Linked DNA regions of Homo sapiens. The protein of the gene in region 1 interacts with the protein of each later gene in a pairwise test. Each region holds a gene or a part of one and is shown in the gene's direction. Other genes may lie near its edges.

What was found.
Region 2: the proteins of MTURN (region 1) and RNF216 interact in binary tests that used the Homo sapiens proteins (3 or more experiments, as listed by UniProt).

Annotation. Positions count from the first base shown.
Region 1 is NC_000007.14:30,151,848-30,155,598, forward strand, and holds part of MTURN (maturin), read left to right. Parts: intron 1-3,751. UniProt on the Homo sapiens protein: Promotes megakaryocyte differentiation by enhancing ERK and JNK signaling as well as up-regulating RUNX1 and FLI1 expression. Represses NF-kappa-B transcriptional activity by inhibiting phosphorylation of RELA at 'Ser-536'.
Region 2 is NC_000007.14:5,621,064-5,624,814, reverse strand, and holds part of RNF216 (E3 ubiquitin-protein ligase RNF216), read left to right. Parts: intron 1-689; coding exon 690-759; intron 760-1,635; coding exon 1,636-1,955; 3' UTR 1,956-3,751.

The DNA of each region.
Region 1 (3,751 bases):
CATTTCTGCCAGAAAAATCCCCCTAATTCTGGTTCACTGGCATAAGCAAGATTGATATTTTCAGTTTGCCACAAGTGGCTGGAGAGCTGCGGCTTAAATCCCACAGGAAAATCCTGTGTCCCAGAAAAAGTCCAATTCTTGCCTCTACTCATGGAGTCTGGTCAAGAGCCTGGAAAAGAGAAAGAATCCACCTGTCAGAAGCTGCCTGGGTGGATCAGGGAAAGTCTGATGAGAAAAGATTATGCACACATGTGGGTTTCATAATAAACATGGAATATTGACAGTTTATCTTTTTTTTCTTTTTTCCTTTTTTTTTTTCTCATTCATGTTATGAACATTCAAACCATTCTCTTTTTTAGAGAGTATGATGGCCTCAAAAGGTAAGAGAGTGCCTCCTCCTGCCCATTGTGCTGCATCCATCTTGCCACCCTTTTTTCCTTAGGGTCAAGAAGACTGACTGACAGACCAGGACCCCACCAGGGGTTTCCCCATACCGCCAGCATCATAATCATGAAGATATATGGTGCCACATTTCCCAAATGCTTTAGAGTCCTACCACCCCTGGCTCTTGGACTAACAGTATTCCCATCACCTGGGAGTGTGTTAGAGATGCAGAATTGGGTCCCACTTGAGACCTGTTGAATCATCATCTGCGTTTGAGGTAGATTGCTGAGCACATTATCCACACCTACACATAGTGAAGGAGAAGAGAGACTGCCTAAGGGGAGTCCCTGGAAGGTACATACAAGGATCTCTGAAGCCACAGGGCACTTGCTCGATGCACAAAAGCCATGGTTGATTGGCCGTGCTCTCCAGGGTACAGACACCACCTCCCCTTCCTTTATGAAGACCTTCTAGCCCACTGTGCTGAGTGCCCCCTCCAGAGACAGTAGCTGCTAAATGCCACCTCAATATGGCCTCACATAGTTTACACTATTATCCAAAAGACCTGTAGTCGGCCCTACAGATAACAGATACTCTCTTGGGTCTGAGGAACTGAATTCTCCAGAGTTGGCAGCTCTGCCTTTCTGGTGCAACCTGTTTGGATAGATGGGCCCCAGCAGTGCTTATGTGATCACCGATAGCTCACAGGAAGCTTTGTGGACAGTGAGACACTGGAAATGCTAACTCTCTTGTCCAGAGTGAGCATAAACTATTTTCCCAGTCAGCTGAAAAAAAATTCACTGAAATAGGAATAAATGATTATAACTGTCAGGAATAATTTAAATATACCAGTCACTTTCGTTTTTTGGCCCACCTTTTTGGTATGAGAATGTGTGGTTGCAGTAAAAGCCAGGGCTCCAGAATTCTTCCCAGTCTGTGTGTACGCCTGTCTCTTCTTGACTGTTGAAAATTGGGATCCAGAAGTTAAATTTAGACTTGCCCACCATAGGTGGGATTAAGCATAGAGGTGAGGATGCTAGATTACTACATATCTGTAAGATATGTCCCTTAGAATTCCAGGCAGTCTATTTCTGGTGCTTTCTATCCATGCTTCCAAATTGTCCCTCCTCACAAATTTAGACATTAGCATTTCATATTGCATTTTTAAAAAAGATTTATTCCCCAGCGGAAAACATTGAAACCTCCAGCTAATAGGAACAGCATTAACAGCTGAATGGGAGTCTCCTGGGTGGCCTGGTGGGTAGGGGTGTGAAGTCTGCTGTCAGATCACCCAGGTTTGAATTGAATCCTGGCTCTGCCACTTACTGGGTGACTCTAGGCAAGTTACTCAACCTCTTCAGGTCTTATCTGTAAAAGGGGGACAATAAAAGTGTCCAACACAAGGTCATTATGAGGAGCAAAGGAGTTAATGTGTGTAATTCTGCTTAAGACAGTGCATTTGCTGTGCCAAACCCCCTTTTTATTTTATTTTATTTTATTTTTTTAGACGGAGTCTTGCTGTGTCACCCAGGCTGGAGTGCAATGGCACGATCTTGGCTCACTGCAACCTCTGTCTTCCTGGTTCAAGCGATTCTCTCACCTCTGCCTCCCAAGTAGCTGGGACTATAGGCACACGCCACCATGCCCAGCTAATTTTCATATTTTTAGTAGAGATGGTGTTTCACCATGTTGGCTAGGCTGGTCTCAAACTCCTGTCCTCAAGTGATCCGCCTGCCTCGGCCTCCCAAAGTGCTGGGATTACAGATGTGAGCCACCGTGCCTGGCCTAAACCCCCTTTAACCTCAGTAGGGAAGGCACCAGGTTCAAGAGGCCAAAGAAGAGACCCAGAGCCAGCAAACGAGACACGGGGTTTTACCGTACTGACATACAGGGGAGAGAGTCCAGCAGCAGGGGCTGGGCAGGAGAATCGCCTTACATGCAGTCCAGTGGCGGCAGGCTGGACAGAAGAACCACGTGGTCCCGTGGTGGTGGGCTGGGCAGGAAAACCAACCTCCTGCAATCAGTGTGCAGTGTATATAGGATTTTCACTCAACACCCTCCCGCTAATGACCTCCACCTGGCAACATTCATTTAACCCAGAACTCAGGGCCGATTTTAATCCCCTATAACGACCCATGTTCCCTGGGATAGGCCATAGGCTCACGTGTTTCTTATAGATAAGGAGTGACTCTCTTGGCCACTCCCAGTTTCCCTAGTTCCTTAGAGATAATATAGCTAGATTACATCACATCACATCACGTGTAGTTACATAAGGCTCCATAGTTTGCAGATCATGGCTGCCTTCAATCTCTCATGTCATCTCCATAGTTACTCTGTGAGATAGAGCAGGTATCATGGCGCTTTACAGAGAAGGACATTGAGGGTCAGCAAGGTGGTGACTTGGCAGAGGTCTCCAGCTAACTAGAGCTCTGGCCTCTGGACTCTAGTGCCAGTGTCTTTTTCCACACACCCTCTCAATAAATCTGTAGACCCTACACTAAGGTGCCTCCAAATTCCAGAAGGCCACAGAGAACTGCCTCTCCTCTCCCCTTTCCAGAAGGGCAGTGAGTGAGCAGCTCTTGAAAGAGCAGTCAGAAAACTTCCAGCCTGGGGACCTGTCAGTAGATGTGCTGGTTTCATCTGAGGTAAGGTAGGGAGCTGGAAAAAGGAACTGCAGAAGAGAGGTGGTCATGGCTATGTGCTTGGTTTCCTGGGTCTTTTTCAATAAGGTACCCTAAGCTGAAGAGAGGGAGGGTGTTGAGTGCTACCTATGGTTTGGGTCAGTATGAATCACCTAGGGGTGTTATGGAACAGAATCGCCCATGGTACATCTCTTTTGGATAAAGATGGCAAATATGCAGATGCACACCTCAGCTGCGCCCTTTTCATGCAGGACAGCCATTGCTAGTTGACCACAGTGTTTTCCACGGGGCCTCAGAATCCTGAAACTCCAGGCAGCCACTCCCTGTCAGGTCTGTTAAGTGAGAGGGAACCAACTGGTCATTTCTCTTTAGTGACATCCCTTCAATACAATGAACAATTATATATATTGTTTAGGTAATTTTGGAGTTCCTGGTGGTGGCGATAGTATTTATATTTTACCAGCTATTTAAATGTTACCACTTATTTGACACTTTTACCTTGCTATGTCATCGAGCAGCTCTCCAAATAAAAAATTGACCACCAAGTGTAGTCATCGACGTGCCTTACGACTAGTCATCTTTTCTCTCTTTAGAGGCAAACTTGGTTTTTTATTCCATTTACTAAAATCTGCAAGGGAGACAGGAGCCGGAAAAAGAGACTTTCTTCTCCCAAGCACACTCAAGATTGGAGCACCCTCTCCGGGGAGCTGAGAGCGCTCTTCCTG
Region 2 (3,751 bases), about 25 Mb from region 1:
CACAGCTCCCACATCTGCCTGCACTCACAGTGCCTCTTCGGTTCGTGTCTGAGGCTTGGATAACCCAAGTGTGAATTGTGTTTGTTATTTCAGGCCTACCAAGCATGGGGTTTGGGAGAAGAGACGGCAAGGTCCGAGGGGGACCATCCTCACTGTCGCACCTTCCTCCTCTCCCCGAGGCCTGGCCCAGGAGCCAAGGCCAGCCTTGGGGGCTAAGCAGGGCCCGACTGGACATTTGTCCATCTCAGTTGAGGACATCTGCAAGACTTTTCCAGGCTCTGCAGACAGGCTGCCATGCCGAGCGCTTGTGGACTTGGGATCTGAAACTTTTCAGGCTGTGCCCACTCAGACCCAGCCCTCTCCAAACCCTTCTCATATCCACCACTTGCACGCAGCTCAGTGCATGGAGGCCCTCCATCCCCCCACCTCACCAGGCAGCTGCCTGCCATGCTCAGACCCCTCTGCCCAGCCTTGTGGATGGCCTCCTTGTGGAACGCCATCAGGCTGATGAAGGAAGGAGGCCTTCGGGGAAATAGGAAGGAACGGTGTGCAGCCCAGGCCCCACTGGCCAGCAGCAGGCTTCGGGCTTGTTCCATGGCCATAAGCAACAAGCGGCCTCCTCACTGTCCCACGGGGCCTCAGCACTGCATGAAGCTACAGGTTCATCCTTCTCATTGCTTGCGTTTTAGGAAGATGATGAGAAGCTTATTGAGGAAATCCAGAAGGAGGCTGAAGAGGAACAGAAAAGAAAGAATGGAGGCAAGTGCCCCTCCCCAGGCCCCCAGGACAGAGCAGCAGCCAGGCCATGCAGGCTTCTGCTGGCCTCCCTGAGTGTCCTGGCACTCAACCCAGCACAGGAGAGGAGGGGGTGCTGTCCCTCAGGTGGCTATAGACCTGACTTCACCCACGCGGCCACATCTCAGGCTTATGGAAAGGCCTTCAACGCCTTGAATATAGTTTTGGCATCTCCTTGATGGTGAGGAAGTCCCAAGGGGTGGGTTTGAGCTCAGGAATCAATCAAGCCACACCTGGCTAAAGAAAAGTAGACCCAGCTGATCCTTCTGAGGCTGAAAAGCAGTGAAGCCAGGTGTGTTGGCACACATCTGCGATCCCAGCTCCTCAGGAGGCAGAGGTGGGAGCATCACTGGATCCCAGGAGGTTGGGGCTAGCCTGGGCAAAATAGCAAGACCCCATCTGTTTTTCTTTAAAAAAAAGAGGCTAAGTGCAGTGGCTCACATCTGCAATCCCAGCACTCGGGAGGGTGAGGCAGGTGGATCAGTTGAGCCCAGGAGTTTGAGACCAGCCCGGGCAACATGGCAAAACCCCATCTATTAAAAAAAAAAAAAAAAGTAACTGAGTCACTGAGGTGGCCCATCAAGGCCCTGGCTCTGAAGGATGTCTGGCTGGGTGGGTGGACGTGCCACCTTCCAAGGTGCCACTGTGGAGCAAGACACTGGTGGAAGTACAGATTTGTTCTTGGTTTCTTGCAGTGGCATTTGGGAGGTGTCCACGTTTTGTGCTTTGATCAGCATGTGGAGCCACTCCCGTGTCCAGAGGTCGCTGCCCTGGTCCCAGGCTAGATTCCATTGAGGTTGGTTTAATGTTTTTCTCCACTAATCCCCACATCCCTTTCAGAGAACACCTTCAAACGCATTGGACCCCCGCTGGAGAAGCCTGTGGAGAAGGTGCAGAGGGTGGAGGCCCTCCCGAGGCCCGTTCCGCAGAACCTGCCACAGCCACAGATGCCACCCTATGCCTTCGCGCACCCACCCTTCCCCCTGCCTCCCGTGCGGCCTGTGTTCAACAACTTCCCACTCAACATGGGGCCTATCCCAGCCCCGTACGTGCCCCCTCTGCCCAACGTGCGGGTCAACTATGACTTCGGTCCCATCCACATGCCCCTGGAGCACAACCTGCCCATGCACTTTGGCCCCCAGCCGCGGCATCGCTTCTGATGGCCCCGAATCCCCATTGAGCAGCACAAAGCCCGTTTGGGGTAGGAGTGTGGATGGAGAACCCTCCCCCAAGGCTGGTGTCTGTACCATTGCATCCTAAGTCAGCTTGAAGGGTAGGCTGGTTTTCTTCCCACCCCTTTCCTAGAAGGGCTACTGCTCCTGGAAGAGTGGACGGATCCATAATAAAGACGTCCCAAATGGTGGAGTTCGGAGAGAGCTGCGATGTGAACTGCCCCTCCCCTCGCATCCCCCAGGCCACCAACGGCAGTCCTTCTGCCTTGTCCATGGCATAGGCCATAGACCAGGTCCCTGCTGCTCACACCTGGGCCTCTCCTCGGAGCCGACCCCTGGGTAGCAAGGCAGCCGAGAGCATCTCCCTGGAGGGGCCCACGGTTGGGCCAAGGGCAGAGGGGGCTGCACCTGCGGGCCTGGGAAGCATTGCTCAGGGTGGGGGGCTGGGACCATGGCCCGCAGAGGCACTGCCACAGCTGTGAGGGCCAAGATGCTGTCCCCCCATCCAAAACCCGTGCGCCACTGCAGTGAGTGTTGAGGGCACCTCTCCTCCCCTCTTACACCTACTCAGATGAGGCAGCAGCAGACCCATCTCGCGGCGGGGGTTTTGTTCTGTTGCCGCCTAACTTTCTCATCCTCGGTCTCTGGAAAGTCAGGCTGAGAAATCCTTTCCCAGGCCAGGCCGCTGCGGTACACTGGATGGTTCTGAAGCTGGCCCATTGAAAGAGCCTCTTAAGGCAGCTGGGACAGAGGCCTGGTGGCCCTGCTGGGCAGCCCAACTGCTGGGGGAGACGTTTCTGCCACCCTGGGTGATGAGCAGCTTTTCCCCCCTGGCTTTCTGGGGGAGGAGTGGGCCTCCTTAGGGAGACAGGTGACCCTGGGTGCCACCCCTGCCCCGTGTGTGCCCCGGGTGTTCTCAGTGGTTGCTGAAGGCAGGTAGAGGGTGCTGTCCAGTATCCCCCATGTGAAGGTCACTTCCCTTCTCATGGAGTCAGCTGAGCATCAGCTCAGCCCTGCCATGTCCCCACTCACCCTCCTCGCCTCCTGTCCGGCCCTGGGTTTCTAGCGGTGCCTGAGGCATCACTCTGGCCCATTGACAGATGAGAGGTCTGAAGCCTTCCTGGCCACAGGCATCACTTTCTCCTCCTCCTCATGCCCTGCCTTGTCCTTGTCGTGTTGCCATGGGGTTCTGAGAGGCTGGGAGTTCACAGACCTCAGACACAGCTGAGTCCGACAACCATTGGGGTGGGGCTGCATCAGTCTCCGGAGTGGCCCGCCACCTCCTGAAGCAGGGCCTGGCCCACCCAAGGTGCCTGGGGCAGGCGGGCACCGTCATTCGCTGCCATTGGCTTCTCAGATGTATTTCAAGGACTAAAGTGGGCTCTAAGATCTAAGATGGCCCGGCGCGGTGGCTCCCGCCTGTAATCCCAGCACTTTGGGAGGCCGAGGCGGGCGGATGAGTTGAGGTCGGGAGTTTGAGTCCCCGTCTCTACTAAAAATACAAAATTAGCCGGACAAGGTGGCGCATGCCTATAATCCCAGGTACTCAGGAGGCTGAGGCAGGAGAATCACTTGAACCTGGGAGGCAGAGGTTGCAGTGAGCCAAGATTGTGCCACTGCACTCCAGCCTGAGCAACAAAAGCAAAACTCTATCTTTAAAAAAAAAAAAAAAAAAACTAAGATACCCATTCTTTCTGCCTTTGCCCAGGATGGAGGCTTTGAAGACAGGTGGTCACCTGGACCTGGGGTAAGGGTGCGCAGGGAGGCCGGGCTTGGGGGCAGCC